Linked DNA regions of Homo sapiens: regions 2 and 3 are each linked to region 1. Evidence: fine-mapped expression QTL. A gene starts in region 1. Each other region holds a variant in brackets. All regions are shown on one strand. Distances are between the middles of the regions.

Region 1 (4,230 bases):
AACTTAGCCAGGCATGGGGGCTCATGCCTGTAGTCCCAGCTACTCAGGAGGCAAAGGCAGGCAGATCACTTAAGTCCAGGAGCTATGAGGTTCGTGCCATTGCACTTGGCCTGGACAATGGAGTGAGATCCTGTCTTTAAAAAAACAAAAAACCCCTTATACATAAACACAGAAATAATGTTCTATTATAAAGCTTTCCTCCTGGGTTCTTAAAAATACAGATAGGCAGGTTACCAGTCTTGTTCCTCTCTAGGACCTGGAAATGCTGGAAGTCTTTGACAGACAGTATACACTCAACCCTTCCAATATGCTTGGAAACACTAGTTCACCATTTTCATGACTTTTCTTAAACATGATCAGGAAGGGCCACACTAACATTGTCCCTTTTTCTAGTGAGGTTTCACCTCCTCTCATCCCAATCTTCAGTGCTAAAGTGGCAATACTTTAAGCTTCTCCAATTAATACTCATTCCCTCTATGCACTAAGGGAAAACCTCTCAATGTTAGGACTCAAGAACTGTCCATATTATGGATAACAGAGTCACAAGAGAACAAATCTGTAACAGGAATGTGAAACATTAAAAGAGAAATGGTTTCACAGTTTGAATCCTTTTCTATTAGAAATCTCTTCTATTGAGCACTGAGACTAAATACATTTATTATTGTGGGAAAAACCTGAATTTATATAAAACCATCCCCATACGAAACTTCTGAAAATTGTCTGTCTCTAGAGCATGCTCTCCTTTGGCCCCTCACACAATTCTACACTCCTCACCACCCCTCCCCCCATTCTGTGACATAAGCAGCGTTAGAACCTATGATAGGAAATACAAGTGATCAGCTAGAACTCTAGTTTTTTTGCTACTGAGCCCATTTGTTAATGACAATCATTAGTGAATTTGTCTTAAAAATATTTTTCATATTTATGTTTGGATCAAGAAATCCCCACCGTCTTTTTGTATATATTTCACTTATACATAGTTACTTCATACTTTTTCATTAAAAATAAGAGTTTTGGAAGGAAGAACCAAGTATGTTTCTTGATTTTAAGTGATGAGCACCAGATTCAGCAGCTTGTAGGAAGCCAACCTATTCTTCCCGGACAAAAGGACGAATTACAGTACACTAGGGGCACTGGAATTCACAGTACCATCACTTAGCCGTGTCTGTTTTAAGTATCTTCCGCATCAAACTGTTAACGGGATTCTTTACCTTTTCCCTACTACTAGATCACGGTGAAATAGACAAGCTACGCCGGAAGCAATCAAGTTTAGGGTATGGATGTAGTCGGCGGCTACTGGTTAAACGCTTAACAGAATTCCGGCCTTAGTAAAAGAATCATTTTTCTTCCTTTAAACAACAACAACAACAACAAAATCACAGTAGACTTAATCAATGAGACTAAATAAGAGAAAGTGGGGGAGGTGGTTAACTTAAAAAAAACATAGAAAAGGCGCCAAGGAGGCCCTCGAGTGGGCAATGCAGCGAAACAGGTTGGTAGCCAAAATAGCTGCATTGAGAGCCCACAAGGCTGAAGGCTACCAGCAGAAAAGCGAAATGAGGATATTAGAAGGTGAAGGTATCCCGGTACGCAAAATAGGAATTGCTTAGAGGCGCCCCGGGGTGCCTTTCCTTACCTCGGTGGACACACACCTTCCTCACAGTCACCTTCCTCCCACGCAAGCCCCAGCAACGGCCACTTCCGGCGCCTAACGTTGGGAGGTGGGGCGAGGGGCCGGCACTTCCTGTGACTGGGAGTCTCGGTTCTGGCTGAGTGTGGGGCAGGGTGGATCAGCTGTGGAGTTCACCTGTGAGCCCCTAGGGTCAGCTCCCTGATGACCCTTTCCCACGAGGATCTCCTCCTTGGGCACCCCATCTTTGGGGCCATCCTCCCCTGGCCCCCAGAACAACAGTGGCCTTGAGAGGGTAGAACTCGCATTTCTTTCCCTGGGTTTTGTGGCGGCCATCTTAGAAAAGGCAGATGAGCACTTAGAAATGGGCACCTGCGATTACCTCAGGAGTTCAAGACCAGCCTGGCCAACATGGTGAAACCTCGTCTCTACTAAAAATACAAAAATTAGCTGGGTGTGGTGGCGGGCGCCTGTAATCCCAGCTACTTGGGAGGCTGAGGCAGGAGAATTGCTTGAACCCGGGAGGCGGAGGCTGCAGTGAGCCGAGATTGCACCACTGCACTCCAGCCTGGGCGGCAGAGTGAGACTCCGTCTCAGGAAAAAAAAAAAAAAAAAAAAAAAAATGGCGCCTGAGGGAATGGGACTGATGGAACTGGTTAGAGGTGGGGAGCTGCCTAGAAAGAAGCCTTGTTTGTGGAAGTTGTCTAGATAGAAAGGTAATTTAGATTTTGAGGGAAGAGAAGAGGAATTATAAAGGAGATACGCAGTGCAGCCACAAAACAATCACCAAGGACAGGAATTTTGTGTCTGGCTGTTCTTGTTTAGAATGTGTTGTAAAATCCCAAAATTCAAAAGGCACTAACTATCTGAGAATGCTTGGTAGGATGATGGTTGTTGCTGCCTGATGAAAGCGAGTTTTAGAGTTGGGGAGAGAGCTCAATGAAGAGTTGGAGAGGACAAGAAGGCCGGAAGGTTACAACTTGTTAAGGGAAAACCAAACGTAGTGTGAGGCTTTGTTCTGGGGAAAAAAAGTGTAAGCTGCAGTTCTTGTCCCCAGAGTGCTTAGAAAAACGACTCCCAAAGTGGATGAAAGGTTTAATAGCAGTACAAAAAATGCCAAAAAAAGTGGTAGAGACTGTAAATTCCTGTAAGGAAAAAAATTAATGGGGCCTGAAATGACCTGGGAAGGCATTATAGAGAAAAGGGACTTGTAGCCTTTGAAGGTTAGACAAAAAAAGGAAGGTGTTGACACTACAAGTAGATCTGGTGGTAATATTTTTCAAAACCAAGAAGTAAAAGATATGACAAAACATTCTGTGCTGTTCAAGATGTAGGAGGCAGTCTGGGTGATTAGTCTGGGCAGTGAAATATTGGGATTTCTACAGCATTTCAGTGGTGTAGAGCCCAAATAGGACTTGAGAGGACTACCCTGACAAAAACTGAATGTAGCTTTAGTAAAAAGGATCAGTGGGGCATTTTCTTTTTCTTCTTTTTTTTTTTTGAGATGGAGTCTCGCTCTGTCGCCCATGCAGGAGAGCAGTGGCATGATCTCGGCTCACTGCAACCTCCGCCTCCTGGGTTCAAGTGATTCTCCTGCCTCAGCCTCCTGAGAAGCTGGAACTACAGGCAGGCACTACCACACCCAGCTTTTTTTTTTTTTTTTTTAAGTAGAGACGGGGGTTTCACCATGTTGGCCAGGCTGGTCTCAAACTCCTGACCTCAGGTGATCTGCCTGCCTCGGCCTCCCAAAGTGCTGAGATTACAGGTGTGATCCACTGCGCCGGGCAAGGGATGTTTTCGTTTTACATGATTAATTTGTGAGCGTTTATTGTTGTTACTCCCTCCGCACCCCCTCCCCCCGACCTTTTTTTCCTACTAGAAGAGAGTTTGCTCCACAGCCATCAGTTCAGATTAAGACACTAAAAAGAACCAAGTGTTGATGGAAGCCAGGCTCAAGCCATTGTAGGCTAGTGGTTCTTAATCTTGTCTACACCTTAGAATCATCAGGGGAGCTTTTAAGACATACCATGCCAACTTCCCATCCCACACCAATTAATGTGAAAGAGCCAGGCATAGTTATTTTTAAAAATCTACCCAGATGAATTTAATGTGTAGCCAGGGCTGAGAACAACTGACCTAGGCATTGTTTTGAAATCAAAAAAGCCATTCTTTCACCCATGGCCTGGATGATTCATTTGAAGGAGGAGCAAACTGTTAAAGTGGTTTGCGAAAGATAATTGCTAAGAAGGAAAGCTTCATTGCAAGCTTAGCACTAATCATTTTGGAAAAAGTTGTTTTGGCAAATCAGTTTTAGATTGTTAGGAAATATTTTAAAACAATTTTCATGAAATCCTAAACCTCTGATTTTATCACAGTATCATTAATGCAGATTGTTGGGGCCAGTGTGATTTGAAATGAAATATTTTTTCAGGCTTTACATTGCAGTAATCTGGTGAAATTGTTGACAGTGCTACTGTGACCCATAAATACATTTTATTCAGATACCTGCAGATTGAAATTTCTGAGGAAGAAAGAGCTAAGGGCTTGGGAGGATAGGGGAATGGGTACCAAACCAGAATCCAAAGTCAGGCTTCACTGCA
Region 2 (4,230 bases), 40 kb before region 1:
GTCCAAGTGTTTGGGCTCCAGCCTGGGGTGAAGTCAGAGACATAAATCACACCTTCCAACTGCCTGTTTCCGCTTTGAGCTCAGTTCCCAGCCAAAAGCCCAGCTAGCCTGCCAGAGGAGTAAGCGTGTGGATGGGGGAGGGGCCAAAGAGCTGGAAGCTGGTGATTGGGAATGGGCGTCATCAGCTGGGAATCTGGTCTCATCAGGGTCATGAAATGGACTCAATGCCAGGGCTGGTAGAGCAGGGAGCCCAAGGATCTCAACAGAACTGCTCTGTAGATACCTCATCCCACGTGAGACACACCCACAACCACACCCTGTTTGCTGAATTCTCCTCTCCCACACATAAAAACCACTGGGACGTGCCTGGAGGCACAGACACCTACATAGACACACCCCCCACCCCCATCCAGCTGTTGCTCACTTGTGCCAGAAAACTCTACGTCTCCTGGATGAGTAGACCTAGGAGAAATGAGTGCGGGTTGAGAGATAAGGAGGATCCTGGATCTTCATTAAGATCTGGAAACACTTTTCTCTAGTAATCTTAAAGCCCTGTTCTGTGTCATCTTTTTGCCTTTCCCCACTGGGGATGGGTCTGGGTGATTTCCCTTCTCACTTTAGGAGAACCTCAGTGGTCTGTTGTCCTCTTGGTGGGCAGTGCCTGCTAATCACAGTGATGGCAGAGCAGGAGGCAAGAGATTGAGTGTGCATGTTGGGCGGGGTAGGTGTTTGAGGGCAGGAAATCCAGAAAGCCACTCAGACAATGGCCTTTTCCGCACGCTTGGGTCCAGGCTGCAGGCTGCTGGATCCTGTCTGACCCTAACAGCAGCTCCTATTTTTCCCTCTGGTTAGCTTCCCACTCAATGCTCATTTCGGGGCATATAGGAGAGGCAGGATTCCTTTGGAGGAAAGGTATCCTGTTCATCAGCCCTTTTCCAGGTGACTGTTCGGGTTGACCACAAGGATTTGGGGGCTTAAGTAACCTTATCAAGCCTGGGACCACCCCACCCATGCCTAGTGTCCTCTTAAATGTAGCATTTGTTATGGCCTCCTACATGGTACAGCTGTAAGCACTTTGACATCTTAAGGGAATCATGATGCTCTTATTTTGGGCTAAGTTTGCCCCATTTTGTTCTCTGAATTGTCTGTTTGTATCCTATTAGACTGGAAACTTGAATGAAGCAAAGATTGTGTCTGTCAATTGGTACAGCCCCGGACTAGCATTAGGAAAATAATATGTCTTTTGATATTCAAGGTGACAAAATGATTACAATGAAGATAGAAGATCTTGGGAATGCTGGAATATATTTTTTCCTAGAAAAGTGGGGGTAGGTCACAGCTACCATGGCCACTTAAATGGGGGTAAAATGACCCTGAGGTCTCCAATCTCTCCCTTCTCCTGTACCTGGGAGAACCAGAAAGCTTCTTTCTAATACACCTTCTGCTTTAGTCATTTGGGTCTCAGTGTCTCAGTATTGTCTCACTAATGTGCCCATTTTGTCTTCAGCTTTGCTCCTGTGATTCCAGTGTCTGGAATGCACTGTCCTCTGTACTGGTCATCAAGGCCCATCCAAGCCCTGCATAAGCTTCCCCATCTCATTCTTTATTTTATTTTATTTTATTTATTCATTTTTTTTTTGAGACAGAGTCTCGCTCTGCTGCCCAGGCCCGAGTGCAGTGGCGCCATCTCGGCTCACTGCAAGCTCCGCTTCCCGGGTTCACGCCATTCTCCTGCCTCAGCCTCCCGAGTAGCTGGGATTACAGGCGCCCACCACCACGCCCGGCTAATTTTTTTGTATTTTTAATAGAGACGGGGTTTCACCGTGTTAGCCAGGCTGGTCTCGATCTCCTGACCTCATGATCCGCCTGCCTCGGCCTCCCAAAGTACTGGGATCACAGGTGTGAGCTACTGCGCCTGGCCTCTTTATTTTATTTTAAAATATTTATTTATTCATTTATTTATTTATTTGAGATGAAGTCTTGCTCTGTTACCCAGGCTGGAGTGCAGTGGCGTGATCTCGGCTCACTGCAACCTCTGCCTCCTAGGTTAAAGTGAATCTCTTGCCTCAGCCCCCTGAATAGCTGGGATTACAGGTGCCAACCACCATGCCTGGCTAATTTTTATATTTTTAGTAGAGACGGGGTTTTACCATGTTGGCCAGGCTGGTCTTGAACTCCTGACCTCAAGTGATCTGCCTGCCTCGGC[T/C]GCCGAAAGTGCTGGGATTACAGGTGTGAGCCACTGAGCCTGGACTTCCCCAGCTCATTCTAAATCTCAGCAATGTGCCACTATTCTGAAGTCCTAGGCTTATAGTCTGGAGTACATGGTCTAGCACTTAATTATCCAGTGTATTAATAAAGTCCTTGTATAATTTAGAAATTGAATACATTTGAATGCACCTATGATAGAAGCAACTCTAAATATTTTATGAAAGCATGTTCCATAGAATTTTTTTTTTTTTTTTTTAGACTGAGTCTCGCTCTGTTGTCCAGGCTGGAGTGCAATGACACGATCTTGGCTCACTGCAATGTCCGCCACCTGGGTTCAATGATTCTCCTGCCTCAGCCTCTTGAGTAGCTGGGATTATAGGCACGCGCCACCACCCCCAGCTAATTTTTGTATTTTTAGTAGAGACGGGGTTTCACCATGTTGGTCAGGCTGGTCTCGAACTCCTGACCTTGTGATCTGCCTGGCTCAGCCTCGCAAAGTGCTGGGATTACAGGCGTGAGCCACTGCGCCTGGCCAGAATTTTTAATGATAATGTTTGCTTTTTGTTAATGTGCTTTTATTTTATACAGGGAAGTCATCTGAAAAGACTTGAGTTTGAAAGTTGCCTCCCTTACTTAACAGATATGTAACCTTGGCAAGTTACTTAACCTCCTTGGGTCTCAATATCTTCACCTGTAAAATGGCAGTAATATCTTTCTCATAGATTTGTTGGGATAATTAAACTAATATACTATATGTATGGTTACAGTACTTGGTTATAAATATTAAAGCCTCATTCTGTCTGTTGATAAATCTGAAATCTATTTAAACTCTGATGTGCTCTCTGTAATGTTGTTTTTTGTTTTGTTTTTTTGAGATGGAGTCTCACTCTGTCGCCCAGGCTGGAGTGCAGTGGCGTGATCTTGGCTCACTGCAACCTCTGCCTCCTGGGTTTCAAGTGTTTCTCGTGCCTTAGCCTCCCGGGTAGCTGGGATTGAATGGAATGTATTTTATAGATCAAGTCTCAGCACAAACACTGATTCCTCCAAGAAGCATTCATTAATTCCCCACCCAGTACTCCTGATTTCACTAGTCACAGCATCTACCCCACTATATTGTATTTTCCTGTTTGTCTCTCCTTTTAGACTAAGTTCTGTGAGGTAAGGATCTTGTTTACTTCTGTTTTTCCACTGCCAAGTACGTTGCCTGGCTAAACAAATATTTGAATAAACTGAACCTGTTTTTAAAGCAATGGTAAACATAACACAGCAACATTACAAAACTAATTTCTGAATTGTGTGACATTGTTTTTTACAACGTAGTCTTCTAGCAAGATAGCGTTTCTTACTATCATGTTTTTAATTTGCATCTAATTATTGAATTGGATCCAGAGATGTGGTCCAATTACTTGTTAACTTTTGTCACCTGACCTGTCCCCACAAATTATATTTTATAAGTGTGGCAGAGACCACTCATTCTCATCATCCTGTCTCTTCTTCCTTTTAATAATATGACTCTGCTACCCTGCTATCCACACACTAAATCTTAGCAGGGTGCATGGCTGCCAGCTAGATACTACACTGTCCAGTCTGTCTTGCAATTACAGGTGGTCCCATAACTACGTTCTGGTCAATGGAATGTGAGTGAAGCAATGTGTGTAACTTCTGGGTCATGTCTTTAAAGAGGAAAAGTAGTTGCTCTCTCACTCTTTCATCCTTCTGCTTGCTATGACATGGTGACACATTAAGCAGCCACCATGGACCCAGAGATGCAAGCCTTTTCTACCAAAGACCATCTGCTCCATATATCTCTGTACTATTACTTTATTTGAAGTAAGAGGGTCACTATATTTGTGGGTTTCTTTGTTATAGCAGCATGGCTAACATCCTTTGAATGAAAATTAAGATAACCATATAATTCATTAAATCCCTTAGCCTACTCTGAAGAATGTTTTCAAGGAGTGCAAAAAAAAAAACCAAGTTTCAATGAAAATAGCGTTTACTGAAGTCACTTATTCAATGGCA
Region 3 (4,230 bases), 25 kb before region 1:
CTGCAAATAGGGGATTGGGTGGTGATGATGGTAATAGAGTGGCCAGATTGCAATGGATTAAGGAGTAAGTGGGAATTTAAGACCAGGTATAGACAACTCTTTCAAAAAACTTGGCACCGAAGTCGTAATTGCTTCAGTGGGAGTGTGAAGGATTTTATGTATTTGTTTGGTCAGAATGCACACTCTTCTAGTGTGCAGAAGCTGGAAAGCTAAAGACTAAATTTCCCACATTCTCTTCTAGCTAGCTATCTTAAATCACTTCTGAATTAAGTTCTGCTAATCAGATGCACTAGTGTTTCACTTGGATTCTGAAGCCAGCAGGGGTTAAGACGGGGTGCAGGGCATCCATTTAGGGATGCTGACAGTGGCAGAGGTGGTTACTTCTTGGACTAGCAGCTGCAATGGCAGCTTCCTAACTATTGTAGAAGCTTCTTGAATGTAGTAGAAGCTTCCTAAATATAGTAGAAGCGGTAGCAGCTCCTTTAGCAGTCTTTTTTTTTTTTTTGAGACGGAGTTTCACTCTGTTGTCCAGGCTGGAGTGCAGCTCACTGCAACCTCTACCTCCTGGGTTCAAGCAATTCTCATGTCTCAGCCTCCTGAGTAGCTGGGATTACAGGCACCCACCACCACGCCTGGATAATTTTTGTGTATTTTTCGTAGAGACGGGGCTTCACCGTGTTGGTCAGGCTGGTCTTGAACTCCTGACCTCAGGTGATCCACTTGCCTCGGCCTCCCAAAGTGCTGGGATTACAGGTGTGAGCCACCGTGCCCGGCCTGATTAGCAGTTTCTTTTTTGAGGCAGGATCTCACTCTCTCACCCAGGCTGGAGTGCAGTAGTAAGATCTCGGTTTACTGAAACCTCCGTTTCCTGAGCTCAGGCAATCCTTCCATTTCAGCCTCTTGAGTAGCTGGGACTGCAGGCGCATGCCACCATACCCCAGCTAATTTTTGTATTTTTAGTGGAGACAGGGTTTCACTATGTTGCCCAGGTTGGTCTCCAACTCCTGGGCTCAAGCAATTTGCCCACCTTGGCCTCCCAAAGTGCTGGTATTACAGGTGTGAGCCACCACGACTGGCCTCCCTTAGCAGTCTTTAGGAATCATTTCTGGAAGTCCAGTCTAGAGTTTGTTTCTTCAGCCTTCCCCAGAATTCTGTGATCCATCCATTTGATGCCCTAGTAATAAGTCCTTTACTGCTTAATCTAGCTAGAATCGATTCTGTTCTCTGCAACCAAACCCTGATTAATATGGAGAACAGGGTATATATTTTAAAAAATAAACATAAACATTTTCATAGCTGAAAGAGTTAAGGAAAGAGTAGAGTTAATTTAAAGAGAAGAGGGTTGGGTATGGTGGCTCACACCTGTAATCCCAACACTCTGGGAGGCTGAGATGGGAGGATCACGTGAGGCCAGGAGTTTGAGACCAGCCTGGGCAACATAGTGAGATCCCATCTCTACCAAAAAAAAAAAAGAAAAAAAAAAAAGAAAGAAAGACCAGTCATGGAAGGTGGGAAGATTGCTTGAGCCCAGGAGTTTGAGGTTGCAATGAAGTATGATAGCACCCCTACACTCCAGCCTGGGTGACAGAGTGTGGCCCTATCTCAAAGAAAAAAAAGCTAAAGAGGAGAGAGGAATTGACTTATGGAAGATATTGGAGGATAGGAGAAGCTCAGTGTAGTAGACTGCCTTCAAGACAGCCCCCCATTGATTCTTGCCTCCTGGCATTCATGTTCCTGTAAAGTCCCCTCCCACAATGAAAAGGGCTCACCAGTGTAACCAAAAGCATATTGTGAAATGATGTAGCGTGACTTCTGAAGTTAGGTCATAAAATAATTTACAGCTTCCACCTTGCTCTTAAATTGCCCACCATGGGGGAAGTCAGTTGACATGTTGTAAGGATACTCGCAGGCTTTGTAGAGTCCCGCATGGGGAGCAACTGAGGCCTTGAATTGCCAGGCATGTAAGTGAGCCACTTAAGAAGCAAATCGTCCCACCTCAGTCAAGTCTTCAGAAATGGCAGCCCTGGCTGACTCTTTCTGTTTTTTTTTAGACAGAGTCTCGCTCTGTCGCCCAGGCTGGAGTGCAGTGGTACGATCTCAGCTCACTGCAACCTCCACCTCCTGGGTTCAAGCAATTCTTCTGCCTCAGCCTCCCAAGTGGCTGGGATTACAGGTGCATGCCACTATCCCTGGCCAGTTTTTGTATTTTTAGTAGAGACAGGGTCTCACCATGTTGGCCAGGCTAGTCTCAAACTCCTGACCTCAAGTGATCTGCCCACTTTGGCCTCCCAAAGTGCTGGGATGCGCGATTACAGGTGTGAGCCACTGTGCCCAGCCCTGGCTGACTCTTGACTGCATCTACATGAAAGACCCCAAACCAGGATTACTCAGCTAAGTAACTCCCAAATTCCTTATCCACAGACATTATGAGAGTAATGTTTATTATTGTTTTAATACACTATGTTTTGGGGAAATTGGTTATGTAGCAATAGATAATACAATGTGATGCAGTACAAAGTTCACAGACAAAGTTAGCCTTGTAGAGGAAGTATA[C/CT]TTTTTTTTTTTTTTGAGACAGTCTTGCTCTGTTGCCCAGGCTGCAGTGCAGTGGCACCATCTTGGCTCACTGCAACCTCTGCCTTCCAGGTTCAAGCGATTCTCCTGCCTCAACCTCCCAAATAGCTGGGATTACAGGCATGCACCACCACGCCTAGCTAATTTTTTGTATTTTTAGTAGAGATGGGGGTCTCACTATGTTGGCCAGGCTGGTCTCGAACTCCTGACCTCAAGTGATCCGCCTGCCTTGGCCTCCCAAAGTGCTAGGATTACAGTCGTGAGCAACCGTGCCCAGCCAGAAGTATACTGAGATAAAGGAAAAAGAGGTGCTATAAGAGTTAAAGAGTAAGTTAAGGTCAATGACCAGTACCTTCTCAAGGAAATCAAGACCAGGTGTGGTGGCTCATGCCTGTAATCCCAGTACTTTGGGAGGCTGAGGTTGAGGATCATTTGAGGTCAGGAGTTTGAGACTAGCCTGGGCAATATACTAAGACCACATCTCTAAAAATTCTTTTTAAAAAGTAGCTGAGTATGGTGGCACACACCTGTAGCTCTAGCTACTTGGGAGGATGGCTTGAGCCCAGGAGTTCAAAAAAGTTGGAGGTAAAGTCAATGTCATCTCCTGATAGTGGAGGATGGAAAGTAGGGACTACGAAGTTGAGAATAGTAAAAGGGCTGCAACGGCCACCAGGTAAATCTGAAAGTCAAACAGGAATGAGTGCCCGAGTTTAGAAATCTGTATCTGCAGTGGAGTTAGGTGGCATAGTTATATGATTTTCTGTAACTATGCTTGATAACCTAGCAGGAATAGAGTAAAAGATGGTGGGCTTCTCTCAACTTGGGAATTGGTAAAGCAGAGACAGAACAATAGCGGGGGTTAAGGATGCTGGTTTAGGCTACTGAAGTACTGGATCATGGAGTCTAAACTGGCAGATGTGGAAATGAGTTCAGGAGGAAACTCATAGCCTGAGAGAATGAGAAGTTGAGTGTAGAATCAATATTTAGGGAAGAATCGTATAAAAGCAGTAAATTAGAAATCTGAAGTCCCAGGTTATGGTCATAGCTCACTACTAACAAGCTGTGCAAGGATCAAATTTTCAGGGCCTGTTTTTTTTTCCCTCCTGGGTTAAAATACATAAAATGCTAAGTAAGAACAGTAACTTGCCTATAGTAAGAACTTTGCAACTCTTTTAACAATTATTCTTAAGTGTTTTAAAATTATATAGTATTTAATACACACTTGTGAAGCATAATAAACACCAACAAACTCACCATCCAACTTACCAACAGACTACTACTAATATCCTGTGTTTCTTCCTGGTCCCCTCATCCTGGCCTCTTCCCTAGGGATTACCACTATATTGAACTTTGTGTTTATCGTTCTATTTCCTTTTAAAAAACTGTCATGTTTCACACTTGTATAGGGCCTGTTTCTTCATGTGTAAGATGAAGCTTTGGATCAGGTACTCTCTAAGCTCCCTTTCAGTTTTTTTTTTTTTTTTTTTTTGAGATGGAGTCTGGCTCTGTCGCCCAGGCTGGAGTGCAGTGGTGTGATCTCAGCTCACTGCAAGCTCTGCCTCCCGGGTTCACGCCATTCCCTGCCTCAGCCTCCTGAGTAGCTGGGACTACAGGCACCCACCACCACGCCCGGCTAATTTTTTGTATTTTTAGTAGAGA

Direction of the effects. Positions count from the first base shown, and alleles are read on the strand shown. Sizes are in standard deviations (SD) of each study's normalised expression. Not every link is listed here.
With allele C in place of CT in region 3, the expression in T cells of the gene that starts at base 1,693 in region 1 is lower (moderate effect, 0.71 SD a copy in GENCORD).

What was found. PIP is the estimated chance that this variant, and not a neighbour inherited with it, causes the effect. A credible set is the group of variants that fine-mapping cannot tell apart.
Region 2: its variant is the best candidate, but not a certain one, in a credible set for the expression of GTSF1 in left ventricle (GTEx, PIP 0.57).
Region 3: its variant is the best candidate, but not a certain one, in a credible set for the expression of GTSF1 in T cells (GENCORD, PIP 0.56).

What each region holds. Positions count from the first base shown.
Region 1 is chr12:54,471,910-54,476,139 of GRCh38, forward strand. GTSF1 (gametocyte specific factor 1) reads right to left here and starts at 1,693. Exons shown (of 9, transcript NM_144594.3): 1 at 1,637-1,693. RefSeq lists enhancers at 1,770-2,296, 1,962-2,021.
Region 2 is chr12:54,432,277-54,436,506 of GRCh38, forward strand. The region is part of intron 3 of GPR84-AS1 (GPR84, ZNF385A, ITGA5 and GTSF1 antisense RNA 1); the gene reads left to right. Among named protein-coding and RNA genes, the nearest start is that of ITGA5, 15 kb to the left of the region's middle. The variant T/C (reference allele first, on the strand shown) is at 2,207.
Region 3 is chr12:54,446,713-54,450,942 of GRCh38, forward strand. All of the region lies in intron 3 of GPR84-AS1 (GPR84, ZNF385A, ITGA5 and GTSF1 antisense RNA 1), which reads left to right. Among named protein-coding and RNA genes, the nearest start is that of GTSF1, 25 kb to the right of the region's middle. RefSeq lists a silencer at 1,729-1,929. The variant C/CT (reference allele first, on the strand shown) is at 2,554.